Regions from separate parts of the Homo sapiens genome. Here region 1 is linked to region 2. Evidence: fine-mapped expression QTL. A gene starts in region 2. The other region holds a variant in brackets. All regions are shown on one strand. Distances are between the middles of the regions. Region 1 overlaps LRIG2 (leucine rich repeats and immunoglobulin like domains 2). Region 2 holds the start of LRIG2 (leucine rich repeats and immunoglobulin like domains 2).

Evidence for each region. PIP is the estimated chance that this variant, and not a neighbour inherited with it, causes the effect.
Region 1: its variant is the best candidate, but not a certain one, in a credible set for the expression of LRIG2 in tibial nerve (GTEx, PIP 0.83).

Annotation. Positions count from the first base shown.
Region 1 is chr1:113,102,619-113,108,141 of GRCh38, reverse strand. LRIG2 (leucine rich repeats and immunoglobulin like domains 2) reads right to left here. Exons shown (of 18, transcript NM_014813.3): 12 at 385-548. Among named protein-coding and RNA genes, the nearest start is that of LRIG2, 32 kb to the right of the region's middle. The variant C/T (reference allele first, on the strand shown) is at 2,845.
Region 2 is chr1:113,070,381-113,075,380 of GRCh38, reverse strand. It overlaps LRIG2 (leucine rich repeats and immunoglobulin like domains 2), which reads right to left and starts at 2,183. Exons shown (of 18, transcript NM_014813.3): 1 at 1,736-2,183. The coding sequence starts at 1,974. It overlaps LRIG2-DT (LRIG2 divergent transcript), which reads left to right and starts at 2,279. Exons shown (of 3, transcript NR_103777.1): 1 at 2,279-2,442. RefSeq lists enhancers at 1,014-1,063, 1,663-1,722, 1,339-1,870, 1,903-2,212, 1,871-2,404 and 1 more.

The DNA of each region.
Region 1 (5,523 bases), 32 kb before region 2:
CACTTTAATGTTATGAAACCACACAAAAAATATGAAACACACAGAATCAGTATATTCATACATTGCTGGTGACAACTTTAAACTAGTGCTATCTTTTTGGAAAGTACCTGGTGGCACTTTTCAAGATCTACTAAAAATGTTCATATAAAAAAACTCATATTGCTTGATTCAGGAATCTGACTACCAAATACCTAACCTAAGGTTAACAGTCCCTCTAAAAGAGAAAAGCCTTCATTCATTAAAATGCCTGTGATCATTTTTAATGGCAATTAAAACTGTATGATTACAAAAATTCCTAGTGGAAAACCATTCTGGTTTAATTTTTTTAATTCTGTTAAGATTATAAGTGTGTAATATATAAAATTTTAAAACAAAAATACAAACCACAGACAAAATCTTTCAGATCCACATTCAGGATGCTTTGCCCTGCTAGCCATTCAGGGTGTGCACAGCTTACATTCACAGAATGTTGAAAGTTATTATCAACCAACCATTGAAGTAGCCACTTCAAATGGCAGTCACAGAGCAAACTGCTTGTGTTCAGAATCCTGCAGGAAAGAAAAGAGGAAAAGCATCCTTTGTTTTACTTTTCATTCTAAACGTCTTCAGTATTAAAACCTTACCACACACCTATCCATTATTCTTGCCAAAAACATTTAACATAAATCATGAGAAAACAAATTGAGACTGTCAGCCAAAATTCTTTAAATATATCAACCTCATGAAAGACACTAAAAAAAGAGAGGGGAAGAAGGGTGGCCAGGGATCTGTTTTGAAGACGACTAAAGAATCATTACAATAAAATGAAATGTGTGATCCTTGATTGAAAAAAAAATCTGCAAATGACTTTTTTTAACATTGGGGAAATTTGAGTATGGACTCTGTATTAGTTAATATTACCTTATCGATGTTAATTTCTTTGGGTGTGGTAATGGTGATGTCTTCGTTAGAAAATGTACTTGTTCTTAAAAAATACATGCTGAGATATTTAGAGGTGAAGTGTCACCATGGCTGCAACTTTTAAATGGTCAGCAAAAAAACTGTGCATATATGTATATATATATTTGTGTGTATGTGGAGAGAGAGCAAGAGATAAAATGAGAGAGGAGGAGGGAGGGAAATAGAACAAATTCAGCAAAAAGTTAACAATTGGTGAATCTAGATAAAGGGTATGGGGTGTTAATTGTACCTTCCTTTAAATTTTTGAGGTTTAAATTTTTCCCATGAAAGTATGGGGAAACACTTACTATATATTGGAGCATTGAGAGATCTTTGTTGTAGACAACATATAATTATTGTCAAATTATTTCATCAACACTAAAAACACTTCAGCACTAGGCCAGGCTCAGTGGCTCACACCTGTAATCCTAGCACTTTGGGAGGCAGAGGCGGGCGGATCACCTGTGGTCAGGAGTTCCAGACCAGCCTGGCCAACATGGCGAAACCCTATCTCTACTAAAAATACAAAAATTAGCTGGGCGTGGTGGATGGCACCTATAATCCCAGCTACTTGGTAGGCTGAGGCAGGAGAACTGCTTGAACCCGGGAGGCAGAAGTTGCAGTGAGCCGAGATCACGCCACTGCACATCAGCCTGGGCAACAGAGTGAGACTGTCTCCCAAAAACAAAACAAAAAGAAAACCCACTTCAACACCGTGCAATGTGTAATGCAATCTAAACTAAGAGCACTGAAAAAGTATTTGTGGTTTATAACCCTGTAAAACATATCTGAAAAATCAGTATTTTCTCTCAATGACCCCTTAAATGTCCCATCCACTTAGAAGCAGGGAAAGTAAATGATTTTGAGAACTTGCTTTATGTGCATGATCAAATCCTTATCAAGTTTAATGTTTGGCATAAAGTATCTAAGATCTGATTCCACAGAAATTTCAATTTTAACTCTTTTTTTTTTTTTGAGACAGAGTCTCGCTCTGTTGCCCAGGCTGGAGTGCAGTGGCGCAATCTCGGCCCACTGCAACCTCCGCCTCCCGGGTTCAAGCGATTCTCCTGCCTCAGCCTCCCAAGTAGCTGGGACTACAGGTGCGTGCCACCATGCCCAGCTCATTTTTGTATTTTTAGTAGAGACGGGGTTTCACCATATTGGCCAGGATGGTCTTGATCTCTTGACCTCGTGATCCACCTGCCTTGGCCTCCCAGAGTGCTGGGATTACAGGCGTGAGCCACCATGCCTGGCAAAGTTTCAATTTTAAGAATGAAAAAAATTGACTTACATTGTTCAACTGTTCAAAGTTGACATATTGTTATTAAACAAGAGGGGCACTGGCAAAGATTACTATGCTTTTATAATGCTTTAACAAGTTTCATTGAGTAATTTTTTCTCTAACAGTTGGTTTGAACAAACTGCTATTGCAGGAACTTTAACGCAACTGTGTTTTGAGACAGGAACTTGCTGTGTTGCCCAGACTGGTCTCTAACTCCTGGACTCAGAGGATCCTCCCACCTGAGCTTTCTGAGTATCTGGGATTACAGGCATGAGCCACCACACCTGGCTCTAATGCAACTTTTTTACTGAGAATTGTTGGTTGCTTTTGGTTACTTTAAAAGTCATATTTATAATACTTTTTAGGTCAACATTTATTAAAATCCCTCTATACTTTTTGGTATTCCCCACAAGGCTTTGCATCAATAACAGGAGGTGTATGAAAAACTTGCATATAAATTTTAAAATACTTTCCATTAAAGTTATATAATTATAGTAGAAAATTAGAAAGTACCACTAAACCAAGAGGGAGAGAAAGCTCCTCAAATCCTCACTACTCAAAGACAACCACTAGCAATATTTTAGTATAATCTATCCACACATTTGTTGAGAGAATACCGTATA[C/T]TCTGTTAAGTACTTGTGCTCAGGATTTGGTTAGTATATGAAGAATGGAAAGAAGCAAAAGACACAGAAGTGAAGGAAGCTACTGTGAATTAAGTTTTGTCTGTGGCCAGGCACGGGGCTAAATACTTTATTTATTTATTTATTTATTTTTTGAGACAGAGTCTTGCTCTGTCACCCAGGCTGGAGTGCAGTGGTGAGATCTCAGCTCACCGCAACCTCCACCTCCCAGGTTCAAGCAATTCTCCTGCCTCAGCCACCTGAGTAGCTGGGATTACAGGCACATGCCACCACGCCTGGTTAATTTTTGTATTTTTAGTAGAGACAGGGTTTCACCATATTGGCCAGGCTGGTCTCGAACTCATGACCTCGTGATCTGCCCGCCTCGGCCTCCCAAAGTACTGGGATTACAGACATGAGCCATCGTGCCCGGTTGAGGTAGGCATTTTCAATTCCATTTTCTAGAAATGGAAACTGAGATTTTGGAGGCATTCAGTATCACGTCTAAAATAAATGGTAGAGTTAGGATATGGGCCCAGGTCTTTTGAGTCCAGCTTATATTATACCTAAGAAAACATAAATTGGATGAGGTCACTCCTCTTTTCTAAAGATACAAAAATTAGCTGGGTGTGGTGGTGGGTGCCTGTAATCCCAGCTATTCAGGAGGCTGAGGCAGAACTGCTTGAACCCGGAAGGCAGAGGCTGCAGTGAGCTGAGATCGTGCCACTGCACTCCAGCCTATGTGACAGAGGGAGACTCCATCTCAAAAAAAAAAAAAGACTTTTATTTTGCCATGATGTGTAATCTCATGGAGGCTGAAGAGACATCTAGGGGCTGTCTGGATATCTCCAAAGCCCATCTGAGTGTAGATAAAATACTTAGGCTATTTCCAATTGTTCTTTTTCCTTTTCAACCCAAGTCATTACTTTTGGGAGTCCCCAAGTCCCCTGAGAGATCCCCAGGAAGGGTGGGGGGCCTACAGTCCCAGTGACAAAGAGTCCAGAATGAGAAGGAAAAAGTCTAGCAGTGGGTGGACAGATGGATGGAGGATGTAAGAATTTGAAGGGAGTCATATCAAAGGGCTCAAGGGAACTGGAAGGAACATTAAAGGTGGTAAGAGGAGGAATAAGGAGCAGTAGCAATGGGAAGAAAGACAGCTTACAGGATGCAGTCTGGGGAGATCTTAAGTATTCCAAACAGGCCAATAAAGGTCCAACAAGGAGGAGGTGGACAGAACCAGTGGTGGAGCAATATAGTTAGCAGGGGCTCAAACAGAGGGGATTCAGATGCCAGAGAAATTGCCATGGGAGAAGTAGGATCCATTAGAGACAACAGAGTAGCCTCACAGAGTTCCAAGGACTTTTAGTCCAGGGAGTCAGGGAATAAACCCCACTCAGGAAAGAGAGCCAGGAAGAAGACCTTCAAGCCCAGGAGGTACCTTTCAAAAGAAGTCTGGCCTCTAGCCCAACTCCAGAGAATATATTCACAATCTTGAGAATCGAAATCTTTCCTTACCAGCTTCAACAGATGTTTGTCCGGAGCAATGGTTCGTTAGTCTGACTCACCATTGGATCCCCGATCTATCAGTCAGGAGTGAAGACAATGGCTTCAAAGGTGCACACTTGGGGTCCTGGGTGAGAGGTCTGGGGGTCCAATGATGAATCTGATCCTATCGGAGTCACAGCACCGTAACTGTTAAATAAAAAATTACTCAGTGATACTTGTTAAAGCATGGTAAGGTAGACGTTATTCAGGATCATCTCAATAGATATAGGGACCACGGCAATGTGATGTTGCAGCTGGGGAGAGAGACTGGGTTCGACTCAGTGAGGGAGAGACAGTAGGGAAACAGCAAGGGCAAGTATAGCCAAGGAGCAAGGTGGGTTTGCTTTCATCCCACTCAGTGGATGTGAAATTACTAAAAAATAACATCCAGAGTAAGGAAGACTCTGGCTAAACCCTAACAGGATTCTTGCTGAAGACAGGCCAGGGTGATCAGACATCACCTGGGAATGGTCTACAATGAGGAAGAGTTCTTGCTAAACTGGTTTTACAGGGTTTGTGCTAAAATTGGATTTTACACAGCTAGGCCTAGGAGAAGGTTTAAGGGCTTGCCTACGGGTTGGTCAAGCAAAGAATCTTTGTGACAACTCTCAAATTACTAAATGACTCTCTGAAGATTGAGACTGCAATATTTGCTTTGACCTACTGTTTAAATTTTATGTTAAACTGAGTTCTTGTAACAGTTAAAACTTTCTTGCCAGCTCTCAGGTTATCACTGGCAAAAAAAAAGGAGGGGGGCGGAGTATACTAATTTGTAGTAAGTCACAACTTATAATTAAACTAAGCCTATGAGAAATAACTCAAAATATCTCAACAGATCAAAATATCTACTTTAAAAATCTGGCAGAAAATAACTATGATGATTTTCATAACATTTTAATTTTAGTTTTTATTGTTAACATTACTCAGCTTCTACTCTGTGCCAAGCTCTGTGCTGAGCATTTTCTCAAAACCCTCCAGTTTCCTAATGCATACAAGAAAGCAAAAATCCTAATTCCTCATGGTCTATTATGATCTGCCTCCTAACTCTCTCTTTAAAAAGAAAAATATGAACATAATTTTATTGTTGGACCTATTAAAACTGTAAATTCGATATGCTTTTCAAGAACAACAAAAAAG
Region 2 (5,000 bases):
AGGTAGCTTTCTTTCCTATCTGTGCTAACCTATTTGCAAATATATAAATACTTCTTAAACTCCGCAACACCTCTTATTTGTATTCTATTTCCAATAAAAATCCAAGCAGCCTCTCATATTTTAATTGCACTTCAACCTATTTTTTTAGTGATGACTCTTTTTTTTTTTGAGACAGAGTTTCACTCTTGTTGCCCAGGCTGGAGTGCAATGGCACGATCTCGGCTCACTCCAACCTCGCCCTCCCGGGTTCAAGTGATTCTCCTGCCTCAGGGTGTAGCTAGTATTACAGGCACGCGCCACCACACCCAGCTAACTTTGCATTTTTAGTAGAGATGGGGTTTCTCCATGTTGGTCAGGTTGGTCTCGAACTCCCAACCTTAGGTGATCAGCCCGCCTCAGCCTCCCAGAGTGCTGGGATTACAAGCGTGAGCCACCGCACCCGGCCCCTCTTCCTCCCCGACCCTCCCTCCCCCCAGACGGAGTCTCGCTCTGTTTTCAGGCTGGAGTGCAGTGGCGTGATCTCAGCTCACTGCAACCTCCACCTCCCGGGTTCAAGCGATTCTCCTGCCTCAGCCTCCCGAGTAGCTGGGACTACAGGCGCACACCACCACACCCAGCTAATTTTTTTGTATTTTTAGTAGAGACGGGGTTTCACCATGTTGGCCAGGATGGTCTCGATCTCTTGACCTCGTGATCGGCCCGCCTCGGCCTCCCAAAGTGCTGGGATTACAGGCGTGAGCCACCGCGCCTGGCCCATTGATGACTCTTTCTTAACGACTCCATCAGAAATCTGTCAGTTAATAAACGTGCTGCTCAGTTAGTGACGAGAAATAACTGTATGTTAGTGGTTAAGAAGCCCCATAATTGCAGCATTTAATACCTGCTGTTGTTCCTAATACCACCAGGCTGACTCAGACTAAGGAGCCCTCCAAGTTCCACTGTCTAATAAAGACCTGTCAAAGTGAAAACTCAACAGTGGAAACTCCAGAATTCATTCAACCGTTGTACCTGCTTTACCTACATAAATAAGCAGAACTGATTTTTGGGTTCTTTGCCACAAGAAGATGCGCTGAAAACAAAGCATCAAATGGTTCTGCAAAAAATACTCCTCCTCTTTACAGTGAAGTTTAAATTAGATCAAGAATGCTACTTACAAAGATATTCTGAATTACAGGATCTCCTGATTCATCATAATGAACTTTTCAACCCTGTTAAGTATCAAAACTGCAGCACAAAATCAGCCAACATGCGAACTAAGGACTAAAGACAGTTCATAGGTCTTTGGCGATTGTGATTATAAAATCACGTGCCTGAGGACCACTAAGTCTGAGGTACACACCAAATCATGCAGCTCAAGATAAGCAGAAAGCACTGTTCCGTGCTCAACCCACCCCCCGCCCCACCAACCATCCAAAGTCAATGCTGGTGCCCAGGACCCGTGAGTCCTTACCATTAAATATGCCCGCCCCATTTCCTCCCCAGTTGAGGAAATCACAGACTCCTTGGCCCCAAGAATCTTAACCCTCGTCTTCATACAATTCTCCAGAAACCTTAACACCGGCTTTTTTAGGCTCCCACCACCTAAAACAAAGTTCATAAAATCCTGACGGCAGTTTCCTTCAGAGCTTAGGCTCTCGACCACACCCTCCGACCAGGCCTGTCTCCCTCCTGCCTGCCCCCTGTAGAGGGAAGGCTCCCCCTCCTTTTGGTCACTCTGCCTGGCCGCTCTACTCACAGGATAGCGGTGTCGGGGGGCAGCAAGCCCGACAGCGCCCTCCAGCTCGGTGCGGGCAATTTCCTGCGACTGCAGTCCAGGAGAGGAATGCGGCAGGAGCAGGGCGCGGGGCAGAGACCTGCTCCGGCGGCGGGCAACAGGAGGAGAGCGGTCTGGGCAATGAAGAGTAACCGAGAAAGCACTCTAGATCGACACCCCAGCAACTGCTCCTCCGGGACGCCTAGGGGCGCCGGCGCCATTTTCCCCCTCGACCTGGACGTGGCCTAGAAGAGCTGCCTGCTAGAAAAGGAGGATCGGCGGAGAAGCTCAGCAGAGATGCTCGGTGGCTGCACTGTCTCCCGAAGCCCCGGCTGAAGGCTGTACCATCTAAAGGCATGCAAGGAGCAGACGCAGCGCGACAGCGGGGTCGACGGCCTGGGACACACGGCCTGACGGACACCTCTCGTCCGCCCCTCCCCACGGCGCAACGTCCTCACGCACAGGGGCCAGCCAATCGGTGCCATAAGATGAGGTTGCGCCCGGGGCGGAACTCAGTGAGGGGCGGGGCCAGACGCAGCCGAGTATCTTGAGGAGAAGGACTTTAAAGCGTTCAGGGATTTTAGCTGCCGCTGTGGAGTTCCGCCGCTGTTCTTCCGCTGGAGGGCGCAGTAGTTCCTTAAGAGGGAATGGTGCGGCGAATAGCTGTGAGTTCAAAGTCCTGACTACAGGTATATCTACTGTAGTAGAAAAGGATCTTTTATTTGCTCTGGGCTTTAAGAAAGGGGAGTGGCAGAAGGGCTGCCTTCCAAGTCGCACACACGAATGGGTCACGGGAGCTTCTATCCTGGCTTTGGCCAGATCGGCCTCCAGAGCCGAGCTCGAGCCTCTTCTGCCCCCTGCTGCTTGGCTGTAGCCCCTGCTCTTCTGCAAGTAGGCGGCAACTGCCATTTGCATAAGATCAATATCACTCTCTGTTAATGGCCTTGTAAGCTCCTGAAGGCAGAGGCCCTGTTTCTTCATCGGTGCACCTCCACCTTTTGTTCTAGCTTGGAGTTCAATAAATTTTGGTGGGACTGCACCTGCATGTCTATATAAAGGAAATACCCTTCTCTTTGGAGGGATGCTGTCAAGGTCACTCTCAGAAAAGCAAGCGAGACAAGAGGGTGTTGAGCAGTCAACAAAGCAAAGACTGGATGTGAGGAAATTTATTTCTCCTAAAGCAGAGGCTATGGAAAACTTACTAGGAACAGTGAAGTCTGGCCATCTTATGCTCATTCAGCCATCCAAGGTTGTAAATAAGACTTTGAGAATAATAGTGATGGTTCACTTATACGTAGTGAACTTTTCAAAGGGCGTTTGCATCTGTTATCTTGTTTGCTCCTTCAGTGACTGTGACATTGGCAAGACAATTATTGCTGATGATGCAACAAGCCCCAAGAGGTTAAACCAAGTTACTCTTGAGGCAGGGGCAGGTTCGACATTAACATGGGTTTTCTGACATAAATTGAAAATCTGAGCAGGTTAAAAAGAATGATAATGCCTAGGTTAGGGTTCTCATAGAAAGTAACTGAAAGCAATCTTTCCCATGGCAGATTATGGAGTCATAATTATGTTTTTAAAAACCTTTTTCTGTTTTTTTTTTTTAATATTGAAGTATATATTGGAAACAAGGCCATATCCAATGCTACAGTCCAAACCAAACTTTTAAAGCCAAGACAGCGGAATGAAACTTACTCTTAGCCTTCTTCCCTTAGCTGTTGAGCAGACTTAACAAACTCTGGTAAGAAATCCGGCATAGGCAGGAACCTTACAAAAAAAAAAAGGAGGCAGTTTAGTTCCTTTCTACATTATAGTTTCAGAGCTTTCCTATGAAACTATACCAAATGGGGCCATTAGAAATTAATGCTCTCTAACCTGTATCCTCCGCAGTAAGTGGCTCACTGCAATCTCTGCCTGCCGTATTCAAGCGATTCTCCTGCCTCAGCCTGCCTAGTAGCTGGGACTACAGGTGTGCACCACCATGCCCGGCTAATTTTTGTATTTTTAGTAGAGACGGGGTTTTGCCTTTTTGGCCAGGCTGGTCTCGAACTCCTGACCTCAGGTGATCCACCCACCTCGGGCTCTCAAAGTGCTGGGATTACAGGCATGAGCCACTGTGACTGGCCACAAATACACGTTTTTTTTGTTTTTTTTGTTTTTTTTGTTTTTTTTTTGAGACAAAATTTCATTATTGTTGCCCAGGCTGGAGTGCAATGGCACAATCTCGGCTCACCGCAACCTCCGCCTCCTGGATTCAAGCGATTCTCCTGCCTCAGCCTCCTGAGTAGCTGGGATTACAGTCATGCGCCACCACGCCCAGCTAATTTTGTAGTTTTAGTAGAGATGGGGTTTCTCCATGTTGGTCAGGCTGGTCTCGAACTCCCAACCTTAGGTGATCCGCCCGCCTCGGCCTCCCAGAGTGCTGGGATTTCAAGCATGAGCCACCACACCCAGCCGCAAATATGTGTTTTTTTTTTTTTTTTTTAATTTATTTTTTTATTGATAATTCTTGGGTGTTTCTCACAGAGGGGGATTTGGCAGGGTCATGGGACAATAGTGGAGGGAAGGTCAGCAGATAAACAAGTGAACAAAGGTCTCTGGTTTTCCTAGGCAGAGGACCCTGCGGCCTTCCGCAGTGTTTGTGTCCCTGGGTACTTGAGATTAGGGAGTGGTGATGACTCTTAACGAGCATGCTGCCTTCAAGCATCTGTTTAACAAAGCACATCTTGCACCGCCCTTAATCCATTTAACCCTGAGTGGACACAGCACATGTTTCAGAGAGCACAGGGTTGGGGGTAAGGTCACAGATCAACAGGATCCCAAGGCAGAGGAATTTTTCTTAGTGCAGAACAAAATGAAAAGTCTCCCATGTCTACTTCTTTCTACACAGACACGGCAACCATCCGATTTCTCAATCTTTTCCCCACCTTTCCCGCCTTTCTATTCCACAAAGCCGCCATTGTCATCCTGGCCCGTTCTCAATGAGCTGTTGGGCACACCTCCCAGACGGGGTGGTGGCCGGGCAGAGGGGCTCCTCACTTCCCAGTAGGGGCGGCCGGGCAGAGGCGCCCCTCACCTCCCGGACGGGGCGGCTGGCCGGGCAGGGGGGCTGACCCCCCCCACCTCCCTCCCGGACGGGGCGGCTGGCCGGGCGGGGGGCTGACCCCCCAACCTCCCTCCCGGACGGGGCGGCTGGCCGGGCGGGGGGCTGACCCCCCCACCTCCCTCCCGGACGGGGCGGCTGGCC